Linked DNA regions of Homo sapiens: regions 1, 3, 4, 5, 6 and 7 are each reported to be linked to region 2. Evidence: microRNA targets listed by miRTarBase, many of them from high-throughput screens and not tested one by one. Region 2 holds a microRNA gene; each other region holds the end of a gene's coding sequence.
The links. Region 2 holds the annotated microRNA hsa-miR-557 (GUUUGCACGGGUGGGCCUUGUCU, at 2,866-2,888, opposite strand). A microRNA usually pairs through its seed, bases 2 to 8, with sites in the 3' UTR of a target mRNA and lowers its output. Matches are read on the target gene's strand: a 7mer-m8 pairs with bases 2 to 8, a 7mer-A1 pairs with bases 2 to 7 and ends in A, and an 8mer does both.

Region 1: miRTarBase lists RBM47 as a target of hsa-miR-557. Seed matches in the 3' UTR shown: 7mer-A1 at 1,690-1,696, 7mer-A1 at 1,909-1,915 and 7mer-A1 at 2,657-2,663.
Region 3: the mRNA of LIMS1 is a reported target of hsa-miR-557. Seed matches in the 3' UTR shown: 8mer at 1,799-1,806.
Region 4: miRTarBase lists REEP1 as a target of hsa-miR-557. Seed matches in the 3' UTR shown: 7mer-A1 at 3,180-3,186, 7mer-A1 at 1,939-1,945 and 7mer-A1 at 1,710-1,716.
Region 5: miRTarBase lists PTCD2 as a target of hsa-miR-557. Seed matches in the 3' UTR shown: 7mer-A1 at 1,263-1,269 and 7mer-A1 at 2,548-2,554.
Region 6: miRTarBase lists GM2A as a target of hsa-miR-557. The part of its 3' UTR that is shown has no 7-base or 8-base seed match.
Region 7: miRTarBase lists TADA3 as a target of hsa-miR-557. Seed matches in the 3' UTR shown: 7mer-m8 at 1,305-1,311.

The regions. Positions count from the first base shown.
Region 1 is chr4:40,422,043-40,426,410 of GRCh38, reverse strand. It overlaps RBM47 (RNA binding motif protein 47), which reads left to right. Exons shown (of 7, transcript NM_001098634.2): 7 at 268-3,131. The coding sequence ends at 507. RBM47-AS1 (RBM47 antisense RNA 1) reads right to left here and starts at 278. Exons shown (of 2, transcript NR_199039.1): 1 at 229-278. RefSeq lists an enhancer at 1-989.
Region 2 is chr1:168,374,104-168,378,471 of GRCh38, reverse strand. It overlaps MIR557 (microRNA 557), which reads right to left and starts at 2,948; the gene lies at 2,851-2,948.
Region 3 is chr2:108,682,884-108,687,238 of GRCh38, forward strand. It overlaps LIMS1 (LIM zinc finger domain containing 1), which reads left to right. Exons shown (of 10, transcript NM_001193483.3): 10 at 1,002-4,355. The coding sequence ends at 1,116. Among named protein-coding and RNA genes, the nearest start is that of LIMS1-AS1, 6.5 kb to the left of the region's middle.
Region 4 is chr2:86,213,334-86,217,701 of GRCh38, forward strand. It overlaps REEP1 (receptor accessory protein 1), which reads right to left. Exons shown (of 9, transcript NM_001371279.1): 9 at 660-3,777. The coding sequence ends at 3,706. It overlaps MRPL35 (mitochondrial ribosomal protein L35), which reads left to right. Exons shown (of 4, transcript NM_016622.4): 4 at 1-457. Among named protein-coding and RNA genes, the nearest start is that of MRPL35, 16 kb to the left of the region's middle.
Region 5 is chr5:72,357,660-72,362,027 of GRCh38, forward strand. It overlaps PTCD2 (pentatricopeptide repeat domain 2), which reads left to right. Exons shown (of 10, transcript NM_024754.5): 10 at 544-4,368. The coding sequence ends at 768. Among named protein-coding and RNA genes, the nearest start is that of PTCD2, 39 kb to the left of the region's middle.
Region 6 is chr5:151,266,666-151,271,033 of GRCh38, forward strand. It overlaps GM2A (ganglioside GM2 activator), which reads left to right. Exons shown (of 4, transcript NM_000405.5): 3 at 66-248; 4 at 631-3,775. The coding sequence ends at 786. Among named protein-coding and RNA genes, the nearest start is that of GM2A, 16 kb to the left of the region's middle.
Region 7 is chr3:9,776,948-9,781,315 of GRCh38, reverse strand. It overlaps TADA3 (transcriptional adaptor 3), which reads left to right. Exons shown (of 9, transcript NM_006354.5): 9 at 767-1,349. The coding sequence ends at 959. It also overlaps a transcript of OGG1 not described here. Among named protein-coding and RNA genes, the nearest start is that of CAMK1, 9.2 kb to the right of the region's middle. RefSeq lists an enhancer at 2,877-3,171.

The DNA.
Region 1 (4,368 bases), not on the chromosome of region 2:
AACTGTATTTCACCTTTCCCTCAGCCTTCCAGGCCTCTCACTTTCACAAGGTGGCATCACTGAGTTTGAGGATGCAGCTCCACCTTACCTCTTCAGTGGCTCTTCTCCCACTTGCTTACAATAATTGCTGTTTGCCCGCCCCTCTGCCTTTCTCTCCCTTGCTTTTGTGTCTTTGTATTCCCGTCTTCTGGGAGAGGCTTGTTGAATGAATGGATGATAGGTACATACACGTGTTCAGGAAGGCTCCTTTTTGTCTCTTCTCCTCAGGGCCGCCCAATAACTCCAGTATACACGGTGGCTCCAAACGTTCAGAGAATTCCTACTGCCGGGATCTACGGGGCCAGTTACGTGCCATTTGCTGCTCCAGCTACAGCCACGATCGCCACACTACAGAAGAACGCGGCAGCCGCGGCCGCCATGTATGGAGGATACGCAGGCTACATACCTCAGGCCTTCCCTGCTGCTGCCATTCAGGTCCCCATCCCCGACGTCTACCAGACATACTGAGGCTGGTGACCAGCACGAAGACAGACCACACAAACACCACTGAAGGAACGCTTGACTATTTATGAAGAAGGAACATGTTGGATTCACACATGCAACCTGAAAGTGAAGAATGTTAGCAGATTTATTTCTGAATTATTTTATATACATGAAGTTTTCACTAGTTTTTTAAGACTATTTTCAACTTAGCATGCCTACGTTCATACATTTCCAAAAGACTTGCAATGGTTCGTGCCTTCATTCCATCTTTTAAAAATTTGTATGCTGTACTACATTTGTATAGAGGTTTTTGTTGTTGTTTTTTTAAGGATATATTTTCAGTATGAAGGTTATTTTCTTAACTTCTGCACTCCAGAGATTTCTATTTTGTAGTACCTTCAATAATATATCAACTATATATTAAAAAAGCACACTTGAGGAGCTAGGGAACTATTTTGAAAAATATATACAATATTTAAAGATACAAACAGTAGTGCTTAAAAATACTACATAAAGCATTATTTTAAAGGTTATACTGGAAAGTGCAATTTTAAAATGAGTAAAACCTCTGTATTTCTGCTGGCATTAAGGGTTGATGGTGTTACCATGTATCATCATGGCGGTACTATTTTTTAAAAGAAATTAAACACTGGATCTCTCCTTAAGCCAACATTGAAAAGACTTGCCGCACTTCTGAGTCCAAACACTGGAAAGCTCTCCTTTGCCACCGTTAGCCGGGGCTCATTCTCCATGTGCCTTAGCCTTAAACATGCCCCCACTCCCACATCTCTCACCCTGTCCCCTCCTCCCCAGATTCCCAATCCCACCGCAATGTTTGGCAAGCCTAGGACTGATAAGTAGCTCTGATAGAGGAGCTGGTGGCTTTTATACTTCTTCCTGGGTTTTTGTTGGGGTTTGTTGTTTCGTTGTTTTTTGTTTTTTTTTTTGTTTGGTTGGGGAAGTATTGTCTTCTACGTGTGCTATTTTCAGTAGCAGAGTAAGCACAAGGTTTTAATCGAGTTGCATAAGACACCTTTGCATAGCTATTTAATTGCCCAATGTAAAACTTTAATGCCATTTCTAATGCTTTTATTCATTTTTGAAGTATGAGTTTGTAGGGACAAAGAATGTATGTTATCGTAGACAAGACCCCCAGAGACTCTTTTCAGCAGAAAGTTATGCTTCTAGTTGCCTTACCATGTTTCTTGCAAAACTGTCCATGGTCCTCAAGGGTGTTGGAAACATTATGTTTATTAAATGGGCCTCTCTTCCTTTGCTGTGCACTTGATGGGTGAACTGGATTGGGGTGTGCACATCCAGGAGGAGGAGGAGAGACCTGTAGAAGTTTAAAGATAGTTTGTAAATATCTTCTAATGCTTGTTTTTAGTCCTTTTATGTTGGAGAAGTTCATGGTATGTAGTTTAATGCAAAATGAAACCATTTTATTTCAATGTTATTAAAAAGGTTTGTTTTATTAGGAAGTTAATGTATTGTTGCAGTGTTTTGTGCCTGTTTAAAGGCTTTTGTTTAGCAGAGTGAATGTAAAATACAGTAAAATGTTAAGATTGTCATCTACTTTTTAAAAAAAAATATCAACTTGGAATTGTTTTTTAAAGGCTCAATCAAGGAAGTGAGGTGTGCAATAAGGTAGCAAGTAAAACGCAGTTGCGTTTTTATGTCATGTTAGAGATCCATACAATTTTCCACTCACGGGATTTTTGTTGATGGCTGAATTCTTGTGGATTCATAAGAGGATCATGCCCTTAGCAAGTACTTTTGTTTTGTTTTAAATTAAGAGATTCCCAAATGCCTTTTTCCCCCTCATCTTGAAATGAGATGAGTTTTTATGTGTAAGCAATATTTATTTAACTATTCTATAAAATTATTGAGTGCCTACTGAGGCCTTTAAGCACCGCTAACATTCCTTTCCATCATTCTTTTAAATGACATAAAATAATTGTGCAATGTTCCTGATGATGTACCCCACAAGCTGCATTCAAACTCAAATCTGTGGGAATGAGTGACTCGACAAAATGTAATTCGGATCAGATCCTCATCCCCTGACTGTGTGAAAAAAGTACTCTCCTTCTAGTGAAGGATTGTCACAGAGTTTCACTGGATGAAACTATGACCCAGTATTCTTACTGTATTTTACATATGCCTGTAAATTATTTGCAAAAAAGAAGAAGAAGAGGAAGAAAGAAAAGAAAGAAAAGAAAGAAAGAAAGAAAGAAAGAAAGAAAGAAAGAAAGAAAGAAAGAAAGAAAGAAAGAAAAAGAAAGAAAGAATAAAAAAAAATGATAACATGGCAACCACCAAACTCCCTTAAAAACAAACATTGGTGACATGGCCAATTAAGTATCAGTGAGCCTCCTATCTGGGACTTATCTGTTCCTATTGTTTCAAAACCATTTCATGTACACTACTGAGGTAAGTTTATAACTTGAAATGTGAACTTTTTTTTTTTTTAGTGTTAAGAACAAACTATATAAATGTAAAAAAAAAGTTTTAGAGTTCTGTTTTCAAACATTGCTAGTGGTTTAGTTAACTTTAGCTGCTTTATATTTGAAAAGCTTTTATTTAGATCTTGCTCCATTTACAGTACATTCTTAGGATGTATGTAGTAAATAAAGCTTTCTTTAAAGCAATCGCAAGACCTTATTTTAAATTGTGTTTTCTTTATACTGATTTATTTTTTCTAAAAAAATTAGGAAAACCCTTACAGCATAGAAAGGATTGGCTAATTCGATATTTTCCGTTGGAGAAATCAGCAAGTTAACGGTCATGTGTTTGTCTTGGGACTACCATTGAAGATGGGTTACATCGGCCAGGTGCGGTGGCTCACTCCTCTAATCCCAGCGCTTTGGGAGGCCAAGGCGGACAGATCACCTGAGGTCAGGAGTTCGAGACCATCTGGCCAACATGGTGAAACCTCATCTCTACTAAAAATACAAACAAAATTAGCCAGGCATAGTGGTGGGTGCCTGTAGTCCCAGCTACGTGGGAGGCTGAGGTAGGAGAATTCCTTGAACCCAGGAGGCGGAGGTTACAGTGAGTCGAGATCATGCCTTTGCACTCCAGCCTGGGCAACAACAGCAAAACTCCATCTTAAAAAAAAAAAAGATGGGTTACATAGCTGAATTGTGAATTATGAGTATCCTCAAACTTTGGCTCAAGTGGTAGGAGATTGAACACTCAAATAATACTCAAATCTGGATTGGAATAGGATGTGACAAAGCCTGTCACCACCCTCAGTGCCAAAGTTTATTTATAATCCCAAAGGCTTTACACGCAGAATTTTAAATGGAGAGAGTTGATGTACATTGAGTTTTCTGATGGTCTCATGAAAGTGCTGGGATGACCTTGATGTTGGTCATTGCATTTGAAACCAAAACCTTCTCGTTTCTCCTTTTCACCGTGCATAGCAAGGTTAACAGGACACTTTCCTTTTCTCTAGAGATCATCACTAACTTCAGACAGTATCTATCATCAAAGCCAATCAGATGACAGGAGGGAAGGTGGTGGATTGTCAATAGAATAAAGTTCCACTTGGATTTGCCAGTGATTAAGAATTTTACCTTCTTAGATTTGAACCTGGACTGTGGCCTCCCAACCTGCATTTCTTGGAATTCTAACTTCCTGCTTCCTCTTAAATGGATAAAGGCCTTTTTAGAGGCTGAACAGACTGGGAAACTTCCCAAGATGACAGCTTATTAGGCAGTGTTTTTAGGAGCAACAAGAGCTGCTGATCTTCTTGTTCTAGCAAATAAGTACAAAAGGTCTTCAAGTTGCAGGATCACATTCAGGTTAGACTGATCTCTTTAGAAAAAGAATTAACAATCAAAATGAGGAGGCCAATAGCGTGTCACATGAGGAGAATGACTA
Region 2 (4,368 bases):
AGAGCTTTCCAACAAGCATGCTGCAGATAGATCACTGGTGTGCCAGGAGATATCCTTCCCCTGAAGTCTCCAGGGTTGCTGGGCTGGCACTGAAGGTCAAAAGCTGCAGAGCCAGACCCCCTGTGCAGACAGCAGCCCCTCAGTTTACCTCAATGTGGCATACCATGGCGATCATTCTCTATGTAGACCATGAACAGGAGGAGGTTGAGAAGCATGTCCTCATGCTGAAAGATCCCCAGCAGGCCCTTCTCTCATTCTTCATGTCTAGACCCTAGGACAAGCTGTGCTTAGGTTCAAGATGCCCTCCCTACCAAGAATTTGTGAGTGCAGCATCATCTGAGTCTGTATCCTCATTTCTACACATGCACTGGAACTCACCCCTTCTTTTGTTTCCTTCACACTTCTCTCAATCTTGCCCTCAATTGTTTTCTCAATAGCTTGACCTCTTCATTTGGACTTGACCCCATGCCCCAGCCACATTGTCCCCATTCTGCTGCCCCGTCCTCATCGTTGCATCTTCGCAGTAATGTATTCTCTTACCAATGTTTGAATGGAATTCCTTAAAATTGAGTGCAAAGAGAAAAGAGACTTTGCATTTGGGGGTAAATTTTTAGCAGAACCCACACACTTTGCTACTATTAAAAGCCATACTATAAAATCAAATACTGCTCAATTAATATCTTTAAGCAAATGTACGCATTAACTAATCAACATCCATGAGAAAGAGAGCTGAGAGGGAAATTATGCATAAGGGCAATTCTTCTGGTCAGGTAGCTCTGATAGTCAATGAAAAGGAGGGTAGAAAACATTTCTGTGTGAGGATAAACAGCGGATACCTCACCTGCCAGGAAGCACTTGAAATTCACTCACTCTTTTAACTTTTTTTTTTTTTTTATGATAGGGTATTGCTATGTTGCCCAGGCTGGTCTTGAACTCCTGGGCTCAAGCGATCTTCCCACTTTGGCCTCCGAAATGCTGGGATTACAGGCATGAGCCACGGCGCCCAGTCCACTCTTTTAACTTTCAAGGCTGACAGCTCCTTAAATGCAACTAGGTGGTGATTTCTCTACAGAACTGTGTTACTTCCCTAACTAAAACCTTCCTTAGTTTGTTCCACTCATTCCTCACTAAACTGTGGGAAATAAGAATCAAACTTATCTCTCCCAATCATCTTCCAAATGGAAAGAGAATGACACTCCCTCTTTCAAAAAAGAAGGGGTTGCTTCCTGCTATACATGATTTGCTGTACGTAGATTGATCAATATTGAAAAAAGAGGTTTACATGCACAAGGAAAGAAGTTGAAGGGGAATATTTCCCTGGAGGGTTCATTGGAGGTATTTTTGCATGTGTACAAGTGGATTCAATATTACTGCAACATGATATTTTCAATTTATTTATAAGAGATATTTAAAAGCAACAGGCATTGTACTCTCTGGGGACAGAAGTCCCCCAAGGCCAATTCCTGCCTTCACCTTAGCCTCACGGACAGAGTTCCCATCCTGACCCTCTGTGACACTTTACAACTTAGTGAGATTAAAAAAGAAGGACAGACAGAATTGTGGAGGTTAGCAGTAATGGAAATTAGAAGCATTTTGCAGCCACCCTTTTATTAAACCTTCTTCCCTGGCTCTTCTCTCCCAGCGATCATAGTACTCGTGTGCAGGATTAGAAAGTTCTCTGGCACAGAAGCACCTTTCTGATATTTCAGTCTTCACCATTCATTCCGTTGACATAATTAAGGCTTTTTTTCTAGACTCTCTCTGAAAATGCAAATATCCCAGAGACAGAAAAGTTGAAGACATGCTAAGGAATCAAGGTTTCAATGAGATAGAAAATTATACTGGTCATAATATTTCCATGGTAATTTACAGTTGATTAAGCACTTTCACAGGTATAGCCTTATTTGATACTTACTAACAAACATATGACTTAGAAAAGCAGGACATATTTTTGGTATTATCATTTCCATTTTACATAAAAGACTCCTGATAACCAGAAATATTGACCCAACACTCCTATCCTATGCAAGTTAAAGAGCTGATTACAGACTCAACACGAGATTTCTGCCTATCCAAGAATGGAGCTGGCCACAGTCAGAGTCATTCTCACTCTTCCCTCTCCCTTGCCTCTCCTGCTCCCCACACTGATCAGTCCCCAAGTCTGTGGCCCCAGAATCCCAGCTGTGCCTGGGTCCCAAGTCCGGAGACCCTCACCAATTTTCTGCCTCATTTTCCCGAAGTCAGGCAATTGCCTAAAGGACCCTGGGTCCTGTCCTTCCTTCCCTACCCTGCACCAGCAACCCCACTCTATACAATTCAACAATAACAAATTTTTATTGAGTACCTACTGTGCGCCAGGCTCTAGGCATTAGGATACAACATTGTAGGATGAGATCCAAAGGTCCTTCCTCCCAATCAGGACTCTCTTGCTTGGTTACCTGCCAGAGTTCTATGGATCTTTATTTCAGTGGTGAAGGTAATGATAATGCCTAAGAGTTGCTGGAGAAATTACAATGCATGAGTGACTATTCTCAGCATTTGACTTATGGTAACTCATCCAATCCTTATAACAGCCCTATGAGGTATTATTCATATTTAACAAATGAGAAAACTGAGACAGAAGGAGGTTGCCTAGTAAGACTGCACACCTAGTAAGAGGCAGAGCAGAGGTAGACAGAGGAACCTGGCTCGCAGTCTACACCCTTATCTCTTAGGCTAAGCTGTAAACTGGTGGAAGCAGTGGAAAGAGAAACAACCTTTAAACCAGTATGTATTAATATAATACTTCTCTGTGCTCAGGCTAGGAAGATAGAAATGAATCTAAGTGCCTCATAGAAGGAGCTTCCTTTCTCCACCTCCTTTCAAAGACAAGGCCCACCCGTGCAAACACTTCTCCAGCAGCAGGGAGGGCCCCAGGCCTCCAAATTTACTGTTCATTTGCCCATTCTGTCTGCACACCCTTGATCTGGCCCTGCCTTTCTGATCACCACTAATGCTGGGCCCTGGCTCCCAAGAATCTCCCAAAGCCCCCTTGGTCCGATAACACTTTGGCTGTGTGCCTCCAACTCAACCCAACACTCTGAGACCCATTTCTGATCATCAGCTCTCAGCCTTCACACTCTCTGACTTATGTAATAGGTCAGCCCATCCCAAATTAACCTGCACCTTCCCCCACCTGGAAGTGGGTTAAAATACTAGCTCAGACTTACTACCTATCAGCACAATATGCATGCTTGACTCATATTTGTTCCTTTGATTCACTTTCATTCATTTATCCCTTCAACAAATAATGTGCACCTACTATGGGCTAGGCATGTATAACATACTTTACATGCATTGTACCTTTAAATTCTCCCAAGGACACCATTAGGTTTCTATACTTCCATTTTATACATGATAAAGCTGAGTTCTCAGCACTTTTATCAAAGAAGAATTTGCTATCCACGAGCAACTTGAGGTGGGCCTACCTTTCACCTTCCCGCCCCAGGCCTTCAACAGGCACTCGGCAGACAGTTGTTAAATTGCGCTGGATTAACAAGCCAGCTGGGCACTGTGTGCAGCCTACCTCCTGATGACCCCCAGTGGAGATCTTGCTGTTCAGGGCCCTCTCTTGTTCATATTCACTTAGTAAAAATTGGCCTGGATGTCTCCTGCATTATCAGCAACCACCAGGCACAGTACCCAAGCTTTGCAAACTAGGAATGTTTAAAAATTTAGCTCTTGCCACATCTCTAGCAGAACAGAACCAAAAGCAATCATCTGACGTTAGGAGGTGCCACACACAAGCAATGAGGACCTCTGCCAGCCCAGCTTCCTCCTGGGGAGGTGAGCTTTCTGCCTGGGCACATGGAAAAATAACATGTATGATATGTGCTCTTTTCTTTGCCCTGGAGGCCTTGACAGCCGTCAGCTCTGTTCTGACAGGTCCTAACCATAATGAACCAGTAATGCTTCTTCAGGTCCTTGCTAAGCATTAGATCCCTAGGTGATGCTATGTACCAGGGGAGATCACCCAGAGACTCTGATCCCAAGGCAGCAGCCTTATTGGGGGATTTTAGCCCAGGATTTTCTCCAAACACAGGGGCACTAAAAGTCAGGCCTGACCTGACTGGAGGGTTTAGAATTCAGAGCCAATTGACCAAACACCTCCAAAGAGAAAAGCAAATGGTTTTCTAAAGACAGTGGTTCTTGCTGTTTCCTCTTAGGACTCCATTAATAAAATAATAATAAAAATAAAGTCTCATTAAAAGAAGATATTTAGTGCTCGCTTCAGCACACATATACTAAAAAAGAACATATTTAGAACAATTATTCCCTTCAGCAGGTTGTAATTCCTGTAACTCTCAGGGAACAGCTTTGGGCTCTGCA
Region 3 (4,355 bases), not on the chromosome of region 2:
GTTACCAAGTTGTATATTTACTCAATTCAAAATTAAACACTCTGGATTTCAACAGTAATAAGCTCCTGTAATTACCTGTTGGAAATGCATTACAGATGATCAGGAGGCTATCTGAAAAGTTGTCTTCTCCAGGACCATTTTAAAAATAAATTGATAATGTGTGTTGCTCTAGCTTTTCAAAAGAATAGTTGAGTTCTTCAAATAGCTACCGCTTACAATGCAACCACAGGTGATCTGGTTACATTTATGTTAAGAGTGATTAAAAACTTTCTTCCAACCTTTCTGTCAGATAACCAAAATAACCCCTTATAATTTAAAATTAATTAAACCTCATGGCTACCTAATTTAAAGTACTAAGTAAGATCATGTTGCCTCCAATAAAGAAATCATTCACATTATAAAAATATGATTCTTTCCTTTAGATAAATTTATCTTTAAGGTATTCTAAAATGTGATTACCATCCTAGGCAATACGACAGGACCCTGTCTCTACAAAAAAAAATTTTTAAGTTAGCCAGGCATAGTAGTATGCACTTGTGTCCCAGCTATTCAGGAGGCTGAGGTGGGAGGATGGCTTGAGTCCAGGAGTTAGAGGCTGCAGGGAGCTGTGATCACCACTGCACTCCAGCCTGAGTGACAGTCGAGGCTCTGTTTCCAAAAAAAAAAAAAAAAAAAAGTGATTGACTGTACTTAAGTTAATTATATTTACATTAGATTTCCTGTTTACTTAGTACTGAATAAAATGTAATCTACAGTCTGTGTTACACAGATGGATGTATAGAACCAATTTATAAGGACTTTTTTTTAAAATTATACTGAATTTTTATATATATATCACAATAAGAATTGAGGTTAGGATTATGGTTTTTTTACTAACATGAATATAATATCATCACCTAGTTGCCTTCGTTTAGTTCAGTACAATTACTGCACATCATTTATATATCTTTGTTGAATATGTTTCCACTAACTTCTTTTTTTTTATAATTTTTTGTCTTTAGGAATAAGTTTGTGGAGTTTGACATGAAGCCAGTCTGTAAGAAGTGCTATGAGAAATTTCCATTGGAGCTGAAGAAAAGACTTAAGAAACTAGCTGAGACCTTAGGAAGGAAATAAGTTCCTTTATTTTTTCTTTTCTATGCAAGATAAGAGATTACCAACATTACTTGTCTTGATCTACCCATATTTAAAGCTATATCTCAAAGCAGTTGAGAGAAGAGGACCTATATGAATGGTTTTATGTCATTTTTTTAATTAAAAAAGAAAAATTCATATAATCGTGTTTAAAACACAAATGAAGTCAGTATTTGCCTTTGTTAACCCTTATCCATTTGTTGACATGTAGACTGTTTACAAAAAAAAAACACATGGTTAAATGTTAAATTTTAATTAAGGCCCCCAAAAATTAAATATAACTTTTTAAAATGAAAGGAGTCACCTTTTACATGACTCAGGTGAAAAAACAGTATAAACATTAATTTACTTTGTGTTCAAAAGAAAATTCCAACTGCTGTTGGGGAAGGACACAGAAAAGAAAAATAACCACCCAAGAAAAACAAAAACAAGAAAAACAAATCTTATACAATCTTAGTATATTTATCAAACTAGTAGCTAGAAAGTGAATATGCACATTACTAAGACAAAAAACAAGTGTAATTCAGAACTACTTGATTTTTTTTAGTTAAATGCAATAATTATTATGCTTAGTTTTATAACCTGCTCTCCTTGTGAATTCTTCCTTCAAATGATTACTTAACGCAGTAGTAATAGCTAGCTGTAGGATGTCCTTTAAATTTTTGTGCAAAAAAAAATTTATACCAGGTATTTGGAAATATACTTTACAATATTGGAAAATGAAGTATTTTTAATGTATTACAGCAATTATGTTTCTAAGCTTAATGTTAAGCATGTAGTCTTAGAATAGGACATGAAATTAAATTGTATGTAGCTTGGAATATATTGCTTCAGAAAACTGAATGTGTATGTCGGTCATATTGCCTTTATAACCATGCTAATATCTATGCTTTATACATACTCAAACTTGCCTTGCCTTAAAAACATACATACTACATACTTAAATCAGGAATTCTAGCCATCTCACAGAATACCAACTAAAACTAAGTGCATTGAGATCTGAGATTGGTAAACCCAGATTCATTTACCACAGCTGTAATTAAGTTTTTAGAAACTATTCTCTTTTTGGGGAAATCCATTGAAGTTAATTTCTGTTATCTTATTAGAAGAAAATGATGTTGATATGTGTTTCAGATTTTCCATTTGAAATCTTATAATTAATTTGATTTATTTACTGTAAGTAGGAGGTATAAATGACACTCTTAAATTGGAAGGAGGGGTGTTTTAGTGTCTGTTTTAGGTCAAAATTAGTGATTCTATTTTTATCAAAAGTTTTATCCTGAAGTTTCAGGACCACTCTTCCTTAATAAACTTGTTAATGGAAAGCGAGCTTTATGAACATTTAAAAATGTTGCTGCTGCTTTGTTGCTTAAAAAGAAAGTTGCCAAGAGAGACTTCTTAGGGAAAATATTTGGGTTTTTTTTCCAAAAATTGCTGAAATATTGTTTTGCCATTTTTAAAAAGTCTCAGGTTATTACCACTCTGCCATTAAATATTTGTATGCCTGCATTTTTAAAAATTCTGTGCATGTACTTTATGGAGTACATTCTATTTTTGTTTTCAGATACCCTACAACCAATTTTTTTTAGTAATCTTTTAGAATTGAAATTATCATAAATGATCGAGAATAATCATCACATAGTTTAAGATTGTATATGTTGAGTAGTTTAAAACAATCTTTGCATTTTACAGTAAGAATCAAAGTCCCTTCAGTGTGCCTTTGTCAGCTAATATGTGACCAGCAATGACAACCTTGGGAGTATTTATTAAATATTATGCTATGAATATAGGCAACACAGAACAGGGTTTGCAGTATAGCGTCTTGATGCTAAATTCTCATATACCTCTACACGAGAAATATGGAGGAGAAAAACAAGCATTTACATATATTCTTCGTCACTTTGAAGATGCATGGCCTGAACTCGACTGCTTGTGTTTGTTTACATATCAGGCATACCCAGGCATCTCCTGCAGCCAGAGGTTCCATTGCTGTCTTTGCTCAGTCCTCTTTTAAAATATGAATTAGTGGACAGGCACGGTGCCTCACACCTGTAATCCCAGCACTTTGGGAGGTCGAGGCAGGTGGATCACGAGGTCAGGAGATCAAGACCATCCTGGCTACCACTGAAACCCCATCTCTACTACAAAAAAATTAGCCGGGCGTGGTGGCGGGCACCTGCAGTCCCAGCTACTCGGGAGGCTGAGGCAGGAGAATGGTGGGAACCCGGGAGGCAGAGCTTGCAGTGAGCCAAGATCACGCCACTGCACTCCAGCCTGGGCAACAGAGCAAGACTCTGTCTCAAAAAAAATAAATAAATAAATTATGAATGAGTATTTTCTAGAAATTCAACTTGCTAAGCCTGTAATACTTAAGGGTAGTTTATCTAGATACAGTACTTTCTTCCCTGATAAGTAGTATCATTGGAGCCCTTAGGTATAGGAGAAGAGGAAGAAGTTTAAAAAGTGTAAGTGGGCCGGGCGTGGTGGCTCATGCCTGTAATCCCAGCACTTTGGGAGGCCGAGGGGGGCGGATCACGAGGTCAGGAGATCCAGACTATCCTGGCTAACAAGGTGAAACCCCGTCTCTACTAAAAATACAAAAAAAAACATTAGCCAGGCGTGGTGGCGGGCGCTTGTAGTCCCAGCTACTCGGGAGGCTGAGGTAGGAGAATGGCTTGAACCCAGGAGGCGGAGCTTGCAGTGAGCCGAGATTGCACCACTGCACTCCAGCCTGGGCGACAGAGCAAGACTCCGTCTCAAAAAAAAAAAAAAAGTGTAAGTGGATTAAAAGAGAAACTTGGTCTAGTTCATAATATTTTTAATAGGGCTTTCCCTGGCTGCTGGAAAACTTAGGCCAGTAAGCATCTCTTTGTTTAAAGTCCTACAAGACAATTTGAAATAATTCATTGTTCATGCCAAAATTCTAAGTACTGTTTTTCTTAGCAAGTGTAACATAATCAGGAACAATGGGTACAAGTAAAACATTCTTTGGATGATATTCAAAGCCTTATTAGCACTGCACCTGAATAATAGGTCATTTTGCCTCACTCATTTGCCAAAGTAGCCATTTCTAAGTTAAGGAAGTTTTTAGATAGGCTCATAGCCTTGTATTTCGTTTTAGATTGTAAGCTCAATGGCAGGGATACTATATTGGTAATTATGTTTTCATATAGCAACCACCACAGTATATTCTTGGTGCTTAATAAATGTTTATAATTGTT
Region 4 (4,368 bases), not on the chromosome of region 2:
AAATAAACGAATGGATTTCCAGCCTTTTTTTCCCATCTGTTCCTGCTTTTAGTCCTCTGAATCTGCTTCTTTTCTTACTGCTGCTTTATTTTACAGTGATTTTGTCAAACATAGAATACAGGACTAAAAATGCAAAGAAATTGGGTCTGTGTTTAATTTTGATGTTTCAAATTTTGAGCTTCCAAGTCTTTGTGGCCACCCAATGAAGTTTGAGTCTGCCTGTTCAGATGTGAAAGGTAAGGGCTGCAGCAGGTTTAAGGGTGGCCCTTCACCACCCTGTTGTCACCTGCACAGGCACTCCCCCATTTGCAGATGAAGAAATGTTCAGAGAAGAAAAATGATGGACCAAACGTCTGTTTGCACAATTGAAACTCTACCAGTGGACTATTCTATTTTCACAGCTACCTAGTTTCTGCCGATGATTTTTTTAAATGTGAAATAAACAGTGATACTTTCAGGTTTGTAGTTGTGTGATGAACTGGTTTTCAAAACATTTATATCATCTGGTTTTCTTTCCCTCTCAACATCCTATGCAACAGGCACGGGGCCAAGTCACCAGGCCAGTCGGTGGCTGAACACTCAGCTTCTAATCCTTGCTACCTCCCATATTTGAAAAAAAGTATTTCCTGTTTCCTTTTAAGCCCAACATTACAAAGATGTTTTTTAAAAGAAAAATGTTAAGACTTTATTCAAGATGTGTATCAGGCATTATAACAAAACAGCAGAACTTCAACCTTTGGAATACTGTAATTTTACATCCCTTTGATGCACAGTCCAGTATACTATTTTATTACAGATCATTCTATAGGGACTACAGACATGAACTAGAGGAAATGTGCACAGTCAAAATCCAGAATATCAGCTCTGGGAGTGTACACTGTTAGAGGATGAAGCACATCCTTTGCCATTTCAAATACTGTGCCAGGTGGAGGACTAGGAAGGCTCAAAGATGGTCATGGTTGACAAGCACTCTTATCACAAACACATGGATAGCTTATCACGGAGAACACATTTCAAAGGCCAGCAAAGTGAGCAAGCTATTCACACAAAGCCAGGAGGGATTATGACTAAACTCTCCAGTTTATAAGCACAAGTCCACATCTCACCTCCTCAGAACAGGTGCTCAATGGCAATTAACTAAAAGTTATGACATGAACATTACAGACTTTCCAGCTAGCATTTTGTAAACAGCCTGTGTCTGTAAGTCAGCAAATTAAAAACATTCAGTTGTATCCTCTAGACAGAACACCACACCACTACATGTACACTTACAGGCTTTCACATTTTATGTCAGTTCATACACAAATGTACAACTTGTCAGATACGTAAACACATTTTGCCAGAAATATGACAGCTGCTTTCAGTTGTACAGTGAGTGTCTTTAAGAGAGAAACCGACTCCCTAGTCAACACTTGAAGGAAAAATAGTTACATTTACATTAAGACAGAGTTTGGATACCTTTATATTTTTCAATCTTGAATGAGAAGTAATAATACAGCATGTCTGAGAATAGAGCGCTTCAAACTTTTTTTGGCATAGTTAAGTGCAAACTTGATAACCTGTACTTGTCACAACTCTCCATTGTAAAATGGCGAAAATATAGGTTGTTCACGATAGGATTTTAAACTGCTGCTAAAGGCAATTTATTGTTTCGGCAAAAAAAAAAAAATTGCTAAGAAGCTGTGTAAGCTTTTTTTTTTTTTTTTTTTTTTTGCATTCGTTTCTGATAATTCTGGGTACTTCCAACTAACAGGTAAATACATTTTAAAGAGTATATTCTTCTTCTGTCTGGAACTACTCAATGAGCACAAAGAAAACATTTTCTGTCTTCCTTAACAGATTTAGGTATTGGTGGGTGTGGGGCACAGAACATGAGCAAACAGCTTCTGTTTATCCTCTCAGCCACAAATTCGCTTTTAGGTATATTTTCCTATACCCTTTTGCAAATTACAAAATCACCTTCAGAGGAACTATGGGTAGATGGGATTCCAATATGCATATCTGGCAACAATCAGCTTCAAATCAAACCCTTTCTGGGGTGGCTAAGATCCAGCTAATGTGTCATCAGCAAAGGCCTCTAATATGTGTTTGCGTAGTAATGGAACAGTTTTTAATTGGGCCTGTTTATAGTTGACTGACAGTAAGTTCTATATGGTATATAACACTAATTCTCTAGTCTTCTGGGCATATCTACGAACAAATACAATCCAAATATTATGAGTAACTGGGTTGTGACCACTGCATGCATTACACTGAAAGAAACACCAACTCGAAGCACAAATATATTATTCTTATATTTCGGCTCAGCTCTCAGTGGGGAGAGCAGCTACCTCGGACCACAATGCCATTTAAACCAGATTCTTTTCAAATAAAATTCTCAATCTAAGTGGAAAGCCCCCTCAGAGAATGCCTTATTCCCCTACTAAGCAATCCAGGCTTGTATAAAACGTCTGATAAGGCCTGTAGTGCCCATTGAGTATGAGTCTGCTGTTTACATTCTGCACAGGCCAGGAGGGGAACAGAAGGTGTGAGCCACAGGTGCTCCTGGGTCTGACCAGCAAGTCTAACCCATGAAGATCTCGAGCTCCAAAACCATTCTAGAGCCCACCATTTTGATTGTTACACATGTGTTTCAGATGTATGTTATGGCATATCTGAAACAGCAGAGTTCTCAGTTTTTTGTGTGTTTGTTTTTGCTAAGCTAAACAAGTTTTGCTAGAGTTCGCTAAAACAAGGTGCTCAGAGTGTAAGCTCCTCTGTCAGGAAATCGGCAGCACTGGTCACGATAAAGGAGAAATCGTCCTTTGTCAAGCACAGAATTACTCCTTCCAGCAGCTCTACATGTTCCCATCCTCAAGAAATTGCACCAAGAGTGAGCTACCTGCCTATCCCTGGAAAAGATTCAGAAGCTCCTAATCCAGAATCCAGGGAGGAGATGAGCTTCCTGTGACTCTTCTCTTTTACTGGGATGTTCCCCTGACCTCTCATCACACTTTACTGTGTTGTGAAATATTGTTTCTCTTAGTTTGTAACTTGTCTGGTCTTTTGACTAAACAACTATCTAAAGAATATAGACCACACTCCTGCAGGGAAAGGGATGTCTTACTGGAGTTGTATTTGGAAGCTTTATAAGCACATCTGAGACGTTCTCTAGAATCAAAATATTTGTCTATATTTGTTTTTGCAGTTTTCTTACATATCAGAACCTCTGGCAGCCCTTGCAAGTCCATTATATTAAAAGCCAAAAGCCATAAATATGTACATCATAGTTCAAAGTATAAGTACCAAGAACAAAGAAAGTTGTAAAAAATGCTGTGTTTGCATTTACAGGACTAAAAACTAAGTATGCAACAGATAAATTACAAATGTACATCTCAGCAGCATAGGGGTGATTCTCTTATCTTTCTAAAAAACACACTGCTGTCTATAATGACAATCCAATTGTGGAAAATTACCAACCTCAGAAGACTTAAAGGTCACCACCCCCGCCCCTACTACCTTTCCCTTTAGCCTCTCCCCAGCAAAATAAAGAAAAGGGGGAAAAAAATAAATCCTTAAAAGTGGAAGGGGAGAGAGAAAAGGCCATGTTTGTGAGGCTGCACACTCAAAGCACACCCAGCTTGCGGATTTCTATGTTATTAGTGAATAGCTCTTTAAGGCAGAGAAGAAACATTCTGTGGATCCGGTGCTGTTGGCTCATCTCACTCACGTGGTTTCGGTGGCCGAGGATGAGGTACTTTTCTTCCTGAAGCGAGATCGAAGGATTCTAGGCGGTGCCTGGTAGAGAAAACAGAAAGGTGTCCCTCAGTTTGGTGTAAATGTGGGATCTTTTGAGGTCAGCACCTGGAAGGCATTGTGTTGAGACTTCCAGCTCCTTTGGCCAAATGCAGCTGGCTAGGGCTGGGGTCTCCCTGAATCTCCGCAACAGGAAGCAATCATCAGAGTCCCATCCCACATATCGCATGAAGCTGAGCCCTTTGAGAGGCTGATGCCTCCCTCTTAAATTATGCTCCTCAATCTCCCAAGGGAACGGTTGTGCAGAATGACACATCTTTCTTGTTTCTGCCTGAGGAGCAAAATTATCTTAAATGATTCAGCAGAAAGAGACACCTCCGCATGCTTCCTTTGCTTTTGTTATTTCCTTTGGGAACCAGCCTAATGTGTTTTGGTACATGCCTCAAATTTCCATCATCAAATTTCCAGTCCCCTTTCTGGATGAGAAACCTCTTAATGTACAGCACACCACACCACAAAGGCAAACACCACCTTGAAGTACAGGTTGAATATCCCTTATCCGGAAATGCCTGGAGTCAGAAGTGTTTGGGATTTCAGATTTTTTTTTTTTTTTTTTCAGATTTTGGGATGTTT
Region 5 (4,368 bases), not on the chromosome of region 2:
TGACCTCCTTTACTTGGTGTGTTTCATTATATATGATGTGTTATTTGAACCCCCCTTTTTTTATATTAGGTATGATTTTCAAGTACTAATTTTGAATTTTGTGTGTAGCTTTTGGAATCCCTCATAGTAATACTGCTGTCTGTGTGCCCCAGTACCCTGGTTTTCACGATTTTAGGTGTATACCATACTTTTTTTTTTTTTTAAGACTCACTCTGTCGCCAAGGCTGGAGTACAGTGGCACGATCACAGCTCACTGCAGCCTCTGTCTCCTGGGCTTAAGTGATCCTCCCACTACACCAACTAATTTTTAAAAAAATTTTTTTACAGACAAAGTCTCACTGTGTTGCCTAGGCTGGCCTAGAAATCCTGTGCTCAAGCAGTCCTCCTGTCTCAGCGTCCAAAATTGCTTAGATTAAAGCATGGGCCACCTCGCCTGGCCTACCATACATTTTTGTTCATGTCCATTTCTTTTTCTTAGGGTTATAGTAAGAATAAGGAAGAAATCTTGCAGAGATGTAATGATGTGTTCTTGCTTTTTTCCAGCTGGCCAAAGTGAGGGAAAAAGTGAAGGATGTGCCTGCCCTTGTGGCCAAATTTGATGAGATCTATGGGACACTGCACATCACTGGCCAGGTCACCACTGATTCTTTGGATGCTGTGCTCTGCCACACCCCCAGGGACAGGAAATCTCACACGTTGCTATTAAACAAGAGGATGGTCAGCCGTCGCACCTTCCAGCCACTCAGCCAGTCCCTGTTGGCTGAGTAACCCTGGTTTCAGTCCACCTATGGATCTGAGGGGCCTGCTTCTAGTGAGTTATTACCTTTCCTAAGAAGCCAGGTATCGCACTTCAGCAGACAGTGTGCTGACACTTGGTCTTCTCCTGAAATTCCCAAATTCACTGAATGGTACCATGCCGATCTCTGAGAAGTTATGTTGCACCACTGTGAAGGTCTAGATGCAAGCTTGGCTCCCTCAGAAAGGCGCTTCCCTTTTGCATGGCTGAGGATCCTTGAAGGAACCTGGTCAGTCTCCGGTTCAGCTTCCGACACCAGAGTGGAACCCAGTAAGCACCATCAGGAATGAATTTCACTACAAGTGTGGATAACTCTGATTTTCAAAGGAGTAGTTACTTGCAAATTACATCCTTGCTGAATTCAGGAGGTATGAAACCCTATTTTACCATGTTAGAAAACAGCCCAGGATTTTCTCATTGCTCTGCCATCATATATGTCTATGACTTGAGCCCTTATTTTTCCATCTGCAAAACAATAATGCCTATGTGTCTTTGCATATAGATTTGAAATCTTCATTCAAGGTTTAGTAGGATCATATTTTCTCAAAAATAAGAGAAATAAGGTTCATAAGGAAACTTGCTGGGATTGTGGTTGTTTTGTTTTCTCAGCAGCACAAACAAAACCAGAATTTAGCCTTTAGGACTGCTGAGTAAGCCAAATTTAAATGACTACTGCTTTGTTCATGGGTAAGCCATGTGCTTTTCAAAATAAGTGCCACTAAAAACCACATAATGCTTTGGTTTCTATGTGGATAATAAATATTTAGTCCTATAGTTTATCTTATTTGTTAATGATTTTTCTCTCTTGAATGCCTCATATTAAAAAAAAATGTGCCATGAGAGCAGTTCAAAGCTGCTTCATACTTATGGTCTCAAATATAGTATGTGTTGAATTTTACCGTGTCTGGTCACCAGTGAGCAGAAGATACACAGTGACCCCACCTCACTTGCTCCTTTTGTTTCAGAAAGCCCAGAGGGTTGCTCAGACCTCAGGAGCTGTCTGCCAAGATTGCTGCAGACTCTTCATTGCCACCTCCAAAACTAAGACTGTTCACTTGGTTGTTGTTCTAAGGCAAGGATTATAGAGTCAGAAATTGTAGACTAGGAGAAGTCTTCTGAGTCTCCTAATTAATTCCTTCATCTTTCAGGTTAAGGAAACGATCCATGCAAGAGAGGCCCAATCTCAACTGTAGACTGTGTCCCAGTAAGAGAGTCACAGCTTCAGGTGTTTGCTGAATCCAGGTCTGAGATCACAATCCCACCTGAGGACAGGATCCGCATATGAGAGTCGCACATTGGTATAATTGATTTGTGGTAGAGCTGAGATTAGAATCCAGATTCCTAGTCTAGTATCCTTCCCACTGTACCACATTATCTCTTTTCAGAGGGGAAAAAGGAGCAGCTCTTAAGAAACAGAATACTAAGGGCCCCCATTACTGTGTGGCCCTGGGCATCCTCAGTTTCCTCATTTGGTAAATGGGGATAATGGTACCGACCTCTTAGGCTTGGTGTGAGGATGAAATGAGATAGGGAATATAAAGCAAGCAGATAGTGGCTGGCACATAGTACATGCAATATGTTTGAAACTAGTTAAGGAATTATAAAAACAAATGAGTTCTTCCTTCTGCTCAAAAATATTGAATTTCTTGTCCTTGTGCTCTGTGAAACATTGAACAGCCCCATTTAGAGAAACAAATTCTCTGCCCTCATAGAATCCTAATTGTTTCTGTATGTGTCTGGTGTTTTGCACATGCAAAAAAAAAAAAAAAAGTGCTTGGATTTCTCCACTTTCAGTCTTAGGGAATAATAGGGCATGCTTCCTGTCCCCCCAGCTTACTTTTCATCTTCTCCAACTCTCACAGTTCAAATGGCTCCAGTGCTGTGGGTGAGTGTGGCCTTGGTTGTTAGCTAACAACCATTCATTAGCGAAATAACCAAATTTTGTGAGCAGTAAATAGCAACAAGCTTCCCAATCCCTGCTGCCCAGCCGACTGGAAAAACTGGTCCATTCCACCTGTTCCCAGAAACCTCAGTACAGAGGTAGCTATATGCATAATGTTCACCCCAAAGTAATAGATGATTTTAAAGTCTTAAAAGTCCAATAAAACAGTGTTCAGTATAGGTTATGATAGGCATTTCATTCTTTAAAACTCAGTAATTCCTTTGAAAAAATGATGTTTCTTTATAAGCAGTAGTTTGCCTACATCATTTACTTGTTTTTTTCTGCTTTGGGGTTTTTTTTTTTTTGAGACACAATTTCACTCTGTCGCCCAGGCTGGAGTGCAGTGGTGTGATCTCAGCTCACTGCAACTTCTGCCTCCTGGGTTCAAGCAATTCTCATGCCCCAGCCTCCCAAGTAGCTGGGAATACAGTTGTGTGCCACCACACTGGCTTATTTTTTGTATTTTTTTAGTAGAGATGGGGTTTCACCATGTTGGCCAGGCTGGTCTCTAACTCTTATCCTCAAGTGATCTGCCTGCCTTGGCCTCCCAAAGTGCTGGGATTACAGGCATGAGCCACCGCACCTGGCCTACTTATCCTGTTAATGAAAATATTTGATTGGACAGAACATCTTATTCCTTAACTCTGTTATGTGCTTTTGTAGATTGTTTTTACTTACTGTAGATATCTGTTGCTCCAGAGTCCCAGAAATCAGTATGATGAGTTCAGCACAGTTACTAGAAGGAGACAAAAAGATATCTTCTTAATTAGGTGATATCAGGGATAGTTCTGGTTATTGATTGCTGTGTGGAAAACACTCCAAAACTCAGTGACTTTAAACAACACCAGTCATTGTGTTATTTCTCATTATCCTAAGTACTGACTGGGCTCAGCCAGACAGTTCTTATTCGGGTTCTCATGCAGTTATAGTCATCATCAGATTGTGGCCGCGACTGGCATAATCTCAAAGGCTTCCTTAGTATTTCTGGCAGTTGATGCTAGGACCTCAGCTAGTGCTGGGGCTGGAACATGTCTACACATAGCTTCCCCACAGCATGGTGGCTAGGTACTAGGAGTGACTGTCCCAAGAGGACCAGGCAGAAGCAGTTACATTTTATGACCTAGTCTCAGAAGTCTCATAACATCACTTCCACTAAAGTCCCAAGCCCCCCCAGATTCAAATGGAGGGAGCATATATCCCATCTCAGTGGTAGGAATTTCAAAGAATAAATTCTGTGAAACTGTAGTAGATAGTCTGTTTTCTCCCCTGTTTAAAACCTCCTGAGGACCTCACATGCTTCTGGATAAAGCTCAGGCTCTTCAACATGGTTTAGAAGGTCCTTCCTAATCTGGCCCACATTTGTCCATCCAGCTCCAACTCTTGCTACTCTACGCCCCTCTTCCCCTCTTGTGGAATGGCTAATTCCTACTCATCATTCAGGTCTTGGCTTAGACATCTTTTCATCTGAGAAGGCTTTCTGGTCTAGTCTCACCTGGTTAGGTGAACTCCCCATGTGCCCCATGTACCTCATTTATCAAAGTGCTTATCATATGCCTGTCACTGTCTGTTTTCTTCACTAGACTCAGGTGCCATGTCTGTCCTTTCTGCTCTGTTTGCTGGGTGCCTAGCA
Region 6 (4,368 bases), not on the chromosome of region 2:
TATGTTTGCCCTGGAATTTACACTTATAACCTTTTTCAAACCTTTGTTTTATTTTTTTTTACCAGGTGGATTTAGTTTTGGAGAAGGAGGTGGCTGGCCTCTGGATCAAGATCCCATGCACAGACTACATTGGCAGCTGTACCTTTGAACACTTCTGTGATGTGCTTGACATGTTAATTCCTACTGGGGAGCCCTGCCCAGAGCCCCTGCGTACCTATGGGCTTCCTTGCCACTGTCCCTTCAAAGAAGTAAGTACTTAGGGAGGAGAGAGCGTTACCCCTGTGGCTAAAGAGATGGGGTTTGGAGAGAAGGGTCTTTGCATTCTCCTTCTGCAGATCTGCATGTCTCTGGATTTGTAAGCCAGTGTGACCTATCAGGAATCACTTATCTTCCGGGAGCCTCAGTTATCCATCTACGAAATGGGAGACTTGAACTTAGATGTGATCTTCAGGGCCCTTTATCCATAATAATCCATGCTCTACAGTGCTATGGCCGTCTCTCATCTTGTGCGGCTGTTTTGAGAATGGGAAGAGGGGTGGTAGTTCATGGCTGCAATCCTAGCAGTGGCTCTAGGAGAAAGACCCCATCAGTAGGCTCCCACTGACTGGCGGTCCACTGGCTTTCCCGCAGGGAACCTACTCACTGCCCAAGAGCGAATTCGTTGTGCCTGACCTGGAGCTGCCCAGTTGGCTCACCACCGGGAACTACCGCATAGAGAGCGTCCTGAGCAGCAGTGGGAAGCGTCTGGGCTGCATCAAGATCGCTGCCTCTCTAAAGGGCATATAACATGGCATCTGCCACAGCAGAATGGAGCGGTGTGAGGAAGGTCCCTTTTCCTCTGTTTTGTGTTTGCCAAGGCCAAACTCCCACTCTCTGCCCCCCTTTAATCCCCTTTCTACAGTGAGTCCACTACCCTCACTGAAAATCATTTTGTACCACTTACATTTTAGGCTGGGGCAAGCAGCCCTGACCTAAGGGAGAATGAGTTGGACAGTTCTTGATAGCCCAGGGCATCTGCTGGGCTGACCACGTTACTCATCCCCGTTAACATTCTCTCTAAAGAGCCTCGTTCATTTCCAAAGCAGTTAAGGAATGGGAACCAGAGTGTTTTAGGACCTGAAGAATCTTTATGACTCTCTCTCTTTCACTCTTTTTTTTTTTTGTCACTAAGTTAAAAGCGAAGTGAGAGTATTAACGTTTTTGTTCTCCTCCGGCCCCCTGTTACAATGAAGGGGCAAAAGTATTTGCTCTTAGTCTATTCCTCCCTTAACTTCTGTGACTAATTTTTATTTCCTTTCTAGATTTGCCCAATTAATACTAGGGTGCAGTGTATCCTGGAGAGGTAGGGTGTGTGGGGGAGGAATCCCTTGGGGGAGATATTAGGAGTGCTCTGTTGTTTACAAACTCAGGTACCCGCAGGGCCTAGCAAGAGACTTAAATGACTGATAAGAACCGTGAGAAACATGTTGCTTCCAGGCTTGATTTCGATTTTTCGCTTTTTTTTTTTTTGAGACAGAATCTCACTTTGTCACCAGGCTGGAGTGCAGTGGTGCAATCTCACCTCACTGCAACCTCCGCCTCCTGGGTTCAAGCAATTCTCCTGCCTCAGCCTCCCAAGTAGCTTGGACTACAGGCCCTGCCACCACGCCCGGCTAATTTGTGTATTTTTAGTAGAGATGGGGTTTCACCATGTTGGCCAGGATGGTCTCGATCTCTTGACCTCGTGATCTGTCCACCTTGGCCTTGCAAAGCGCTGGATTACAGGCATGAGCCACTACACCCAGCCGATTTTTCCTTTTTGATTAAAGATGCTATTACAATGTAAATATTTCTTACACAGAAAGTCACAGCACATGTGCCCATTGATACAAGGCTGCTGAGGCCTGGTCTCCAGTTGGAAATATAATTAAGGGTGGCAAGGACTGGAGTCAGTTGGAGAGTGCATAGCCAGTCTGTGAAGACAACTGCCAGATACTGGCAATACTCCAGCCTGGTGACAGAGTGAGACTCTGTCTCAAAAAAAAAGTTTCAATGTTTACTCCTAGAGAAGCCAAAAATCCAGATTTGTATATGAAATCTTACCATTTTAAAAGATTGGCAGCTAATTATTTTTTTAAAAAGCTGTGCAGTGTGATGTGTCCCAAACGGACTGGCTCATGGGTGGCCACGTCACAACCTCTGATCTCAGACCGTGCATGCCTTGTCCTCTTAAGACAACTCCTGTGGCACCGTTTCTCCCTCCACAGGGCCAAAGCCATAGTGTCCGGTCCCAAGGACAAGGCTCTTCCAGTGCTAGGAGAGGTATGAGCAGCCTCTCACCTGTGAGCTGTGGGGATCACAAGGCTGCCTGCCTCAGTCTTGGAGTCCTGTTGGGTGAATGAGGCAGATGGGAAAGAGCCTCACCAGCAGCTGCTTTTGGAGCAGGGGTCCAAGGAAGAGAGGGTGGCCTCGACATCAAACTGCCTGGATTTTTCTACCACCCTGTTACATCATAACAACTTCTGAAACACACACCAGCCCTGAGTTCTGGGCTCATTTGAAGCCTGGAATAGCAATAAATCTTTTTAACTTGCGGACAGTTTCCCCTTGCCTTGGCTGCATATTTCACTGATCACATCTCAGGATTTCAAAAGCATTTTTGGGGTGGGGCTCTTTTGGTTGGAAGGGTTTGTTGGAACGGTACAGGTGAGCCGAGGTGATTCCAGGGACGGACCCTTCTGCAGGAGCTTGAGCTTGCTTGTTGTCTCTGCTTCATCGCCATCCAGCTCCCTTGTTTGCTATTTTGCTTTCCATCACATCATGACTGCGGAGAGCAAAAATCACCTAGTGACCATTGAACAGGTCCCAGAGACAAAATCTTTTTATCTGAGGAATTTAAAAGGGAGCAAAGACCACCTGGTGACTATCAGGCCATGCAGAGGCAAAACGCCTTATTTGGGGAAAATTAAAAGTAATTAGACTTTCCTATTATCTAAAGCAGGCATCTGGTTCCAGATTTCTTTTCCCCGAAAAAAACCTTAGAAGTAACTAAAATTTCTGTACATCTCCGGAATGCCATGCTGAAACTCACTGCAACCCCACGGTCCCGCTTTAAGGTCCATAAATATCCCTAAGGAAAAATCCACCGTGGTACATTCAGTCCTCTCACCGAGGTGCCCCATGGCAGTCTTCTGCAGCATTCTTCTAATACCTTTCCTTTTTCAAACCTATACTGTTGTTGGTGAATTCTTTTTACCAACCCACGAGTTGACCACTTCCCAATGCCGGGGATCTGACACCTCACCTGGCAATGACCTCCACAGCCGTTTCCCTCTGTTGGATCTTCCAGCCTTATTCTCAACAGTTCATTTTTAGTTCACATTCTTGACCGAATCTCAGTAGCTCAGTTAATCTTTTTATGTCTGCTCTGCTCTTGGGTCATATGTTCCGTGAGGTTTCTTAGGGGTGGGGGATGAGGAGTTAAAGGTGGCATCTTCAATCGCAGGTCAAAGCAGACTTTAATAAATGGTGCTGAGCCAACTGGAAAGCCCCTTGGAGAAAGTTGAAGTTAGACCTGTACTTCACACCATATGCAAGAATGAACTCCATCTGGATCCAGGATCCAAATGTAAGAAAATGAAGCCATATAAATACAGAAGGAAACGTGGTGGAAATATCCAGTGGCAACAAAATATTGACACATTTGACTACATGAAGATAATAAAAATGCTTAGTAAAAACACAATAAAATCAAATGACTGGGAGAAAAATTTATCCAGCCTATATAATAGACAAACAGTTAGTGTTCTTACTATATAAGGAATTAAAAATTAAGGGACAAAGGACCAAAAACTTGATAGAAAAACTGGGAAAAGACATGAACATACTCACGTAAAGATATAAAAATGGCTCTTTAAAATGAAATATTCAAACTAACTCATTAGAGAAATGTAAATTGAGATAATACTGAGATACCATTTATCATCTCTAAGACTGGTGAAAGAAAGAACAACACATTTCTGTTAGGCAAGGCTATAGGGAAACACACTGTCATCACTGTTGGTAGGAATGCAAACTGGTATGACTTCTGGAGGGGAATTTGTCAGTACTTAACAAATTGCAGAAGCATTTACCCTTTGACACAACCATTTCCACTGTGGGAATTTCCCTTGAAGATGCACCTCCAACAGTACAAACATACAGATGCACAAGATTACTCATTGCAGCACTGAGACTGCAAATATTGGAAGCAAAGTCATGTTCATATACACGAGAAAGCCTGAGTAAACCATGGCACCAATGGCATACCCACATGATGGAATATTATTGAGCTATAAAAAAAATGAGGAAGATCTCTATGAATCGGTATAGTTATTTTCAAGATATATT
Region 7 (4,368 bases), not on the chromosome of region 2:
TGTTTGTGTGTGTGTATGTATATATATATATATTTTAGAGACAGGGTCTTACTCTGTTGCCGAGGTTGGTCTCAACTCCTGGCTTCAAGTGATCTTCCTGCCTCCATCTCCCAAAGCGCTGGGATTACAGGCATGAGCTACTTTGCCCAGCCTACTGTGTATATTTTTAAGACCTTTTTTTTTTTGAAGACACAGTCACGCTCTGTTGCCCAGACTGGAGTGTAGTGGCATGATCATAGTTCACTGTAACCTTGAACTCCTGGCCTCAAGCAATCCTCAGCTCCCTTGGAGTTGGGACTACAGGTGTGCACTACCACACCCAGCTAATTTTTTAAATTTTTTGTAGAGACAGTCTCACTATGTTGCTCAGACTGGTCTCGAACTCCTGGGCTCAAGTGATCCTTCTGCCTTGGGCTCCCAAAGTGCTGGGACTGCAGATGTGAACCCCCATGTGCAGCCAAGACTTTATTCTTCTAGAGCAGTTTTAAGTTCACAACAAAATTGAGAGAAAGGTACAGAGAATTCCCGTATCTCCCTGTCCCCACATGTGCACAGCCTCCCCCGTGATCAACATGAGTTAATATTTTTCAGGAGCTTAAGATAGTGCCATGTAAGTGTAGGTCAGTAACTGCTTTTTGGTCACGACTGTATGACACAATCCACAGGCATGCCAGCCTGGGCTGGTGGGTAGGCTCGGTCTTGAAGAGGGAGGGGTTGTTCTCTGGAGGTGGGCTGACCCTGGCACCTGGCTGGCTGGTCCCCACAGGCTGGCAAAGGAGGAGGTGAGCCGGCAGGAGCTGAGGCAGCGGGTGCGCATGGCTGACAACGAGGTCATGGACGCCTTTCGCAAGATCATGGCTGCCCGGCAGAAGAAGCGGACTCCCACCAAGAAAGAAAAGGACCAGGCCTGGAAGACTCTGAAGGAGCGTGAGAGCATCCTGAAGCTGCTGGATGGGTAGCCCTCACCCCTGCCTCAGGCTGATTATCTGGCCTAGGGGAGGGGAAGGGAGGCCCACTTCCTTCTTTGGGCACAGGAAACATTGGCCTGTGGCTGTCCCTCAAATGGCGGCAGTCTCTAGAGGGCCGTGGCCCTTCCCCTGAGGTCTTTTGGCCTAGCTCTGTACAACCAGGACACAGGAAGCCCTGCTGGGCTAGCCTGAGGCCTAGTCTCTGCTTGGTCCCCGAGATGGGGTTGGAGGGGACTTCGTTTCTGGGTCTTCCTCTTCCCCTCTTTACCATCCCCCACTCCCTAATCCCCTACCCCTGTCTCCCCTTCAAGGACTTCTCCCTTGTGGTTTTGTAAAGTGCAAACTTAAGAATAAAGTGACTGCTGTGGTTTTTCAAAAAAAGCATCCAGTCTTTGAATGTCTGTTACAGTGGGGAGGAAGGAACCAGTGTGGGTGGTAAGGTTTGTGGGGGGTATGCTTGGTGGCTCTCAGCCCATGGCCACTAACCCATGGCATTCAGTCAGGGAGAACTTTCTGAGTACCTCTTTCTGAGGATACTTGTGGCTGCACGTAACAATGCCCCCCCAGCTCAAAGTGGATTCACAGTAAGGAAATGTGTTGGCTGCAGGATGGGCAGTCCTGGGACAGAGTGGCCTTCACGGTTAGCCAATCTAGCAATTCTTCAGGGTCATCAAGGGTCCAGGTTTCTTTTTTTTTTAATTTAAGTTCTAGGGTACATGTGTACAACGTGCAGGTTTGTTACATATGTATACATGTGCCATGTTGGTGTGCTGCACCCATTAACTCGTCATTTACATTAGGTATATCTCCTAATGCTTTCCCTCCCCCCTCCCCCAAGGGTCCAGGTTTCTTAGGGGTCACCACACTGCCCTCCACAGTGTCGACCTCTGCCTAAGGTGAGTCCTTCTCTGGCTGTAGTGTGGCAGTGGAGCAGTTGGGGCCAGATGCTTCCTCATTTACATCCAGCACAGGAGGGAGCCGGAGCCAGCGGGCTTCCATGGCCCATCTACAGAAGCAAGAAGCCTTTTCCCAGATACCATCATGTTTCAGTGGCCCAAACTCAGTCTCACATGCCCATTCCTCAGTCACTGTGGCAAAGGAGACTGTAATGGCTTTATGCCAGTCAGAGTGGAGTTTGCTACTCCATCAAGGTGGTGGAGAGAGAGTAAAACCCAACAAGATCTGAGTAGGAAACAGGGAAGTGAGTGCTAGATAGACCACCGACAACGTCTCTTCCACAGCTGGGGCAGGAAGCTTGGCCTAAGGGACACAGATGAATAAATATGCTCTGGTACCTGCCTCAAGTTGTTCCCAGACTGGTCTGAGAGAATCAGGGAATAATTTGCAATTTACTGTGGGAAGGTTGAGGTCCACGCAGGAGAGAAGGGAGGGTAAGATTCCCTAAGGAAGTGACCTATGAACTGAGCCATAAAGAAGGAGGGCGAACATGGCCAACATTCTCGTATACCCAGCACCTCTCTGTTGGAGAAATGTTCCTTCCCCATCACACATGGTTCTTGTCCAACTGCCAAACTAGGGTGCACACATGACCCCAGCTTGGCCAGTCAAGTGCCAATCCCTCTAGCCACAATGATTAGTCCCAGAAGCAGGCATGTAACCCAAGCTGGGTCACTCGAGGCCCTCCATAAGATTGCTCTGTGGATGCTGAGAGGAGAGTTCCACTTCTTGTTGGACCATAAGCCATAGACTATAAACTCAGTCTACCCCAGTGACCTGCTCTCCTCCCATGGGGAAAAACCTGCTTGAGAATAAAGCCAGCTCAGAAAAGCAGAGCCAGGAGATGGAGAAGTGCTGCATCCAGCTATTCTTGAAGCCACCGGATCCTCCCTTAGACTTCCCACATATATCAGCCCACAAAGGCTTCTTTTGGCTTAAACTAGTTTGCTTTAGAGTTTTGTGATTTGTAACTAAAAAAGGCCTATTACAAGTGAATTTTGGCAAAAAGAAAGATGAAGTAGGATCCTGAGAGAGAGGACAGCATGAGGCCCTGCCTCCCACTAGGTGCTGGGCCAAGCTGCTGCAATTTCTCAGTGACTCATTGTCCCCAGGTTGCTCACAGCCTTCTCAGAGAGAAAAGACACCCACACATGCAATGATGAGAAACCAACTCTAATCATAATGATAATGCAATGAAGGGCTCAGTAAATGTTAGTATGCACCAGGCATTGTTCTGAACTCATTCAACTACCTAATATTATGGGGTAGGTATCAGCTACCCCATAATAACATCCCATTTACAGATGAGGAAACTGAGGCTTAGGAGGTTACATACCTTGCTTTGTCAAGCAATTGAGTGGTTGAGCCAACATTCAAACTCAGGCCATTTGGCTTACAGAGAGAGCCTCTTCATTACAACTCACTGGGGCCCCACTCCCATTACAGTGTATGTGAATGGTACTCCCTATACTTGGGCAGTGCCCAACCTGTGCAGCCATATATGGCAGCTCTGCTTGAAGACCCCCCTCCTCTTAACCACTCACTTCCATGTTCACTGGGCCACACCATAAGTATGGTGGGCGTTGTTGGTAGAGAGTTCCAAGAACAGAGACAGTTTTGTGGAGGAGGTGGGATGAGAGCTGACATCCCAAAATTGGATGGAATTGTGAAAGAAGGAAGACAGATATAAATAGAAAGAAGAACCCTAGAAGACCGACTGGGCCTGGTTCACCAGAGAAGAAACTTAACTTTCAAGGATCAGTCATGAGCACTCTAGCTGTTCTCTGTTGCATACCTACTATCTGCCTGGCACTGTGCCAGGCCCTTTACCCACCCCTCCTATCTGATGCTTACCATGCACCTCCAAGGAGAGTAATATTCCAGCCTGCAGATGACACAGAGACTCAAAGAGATGCTGTGCCTTGCTGAGGCCATGCAGCCTTGATGCAGGAATAGTTGCTGCCCCCAGGTAGCACCATCCCTGGCAGAGTTCTTACAATCATATCAGTGTCTGCTGGAGCCAAAAGATGCCTCCTTTATGAGTGTGGAGGAAGCTGGGTTGTCATGAGGAGGGCGGATTAGTTCCAGTACCTCAAGTCTCCAAATTTAATTCAAAACAATTCTGATTCCTTATCACTAGTTTGGAGGCAAAGCCTTTTGTGTCTTGGCCCTAGAAAGCATCTGTCTTGCACATCATGGTCTCCCCAGAGTTCCAAATGCCTTACAGCTGACTTTCAGCAACACCAGGGTGAGTGAGAACGGGGAGGGTGAGCTCTGACCCACAGTGGGTCCCCAGCCCCTGTCTGCTCCTGAGTACTCTGGGCACCAAGTGCTCTGGGTCCCAGTTGGCTCCTGCTGAAAAGAAAGTGATGGCAGGAGCTTTGTGGAAATGTGGTCGGGGAGTAAATTTATTTCTTGGCCTGGGGCTCAGGACTCAATGGAA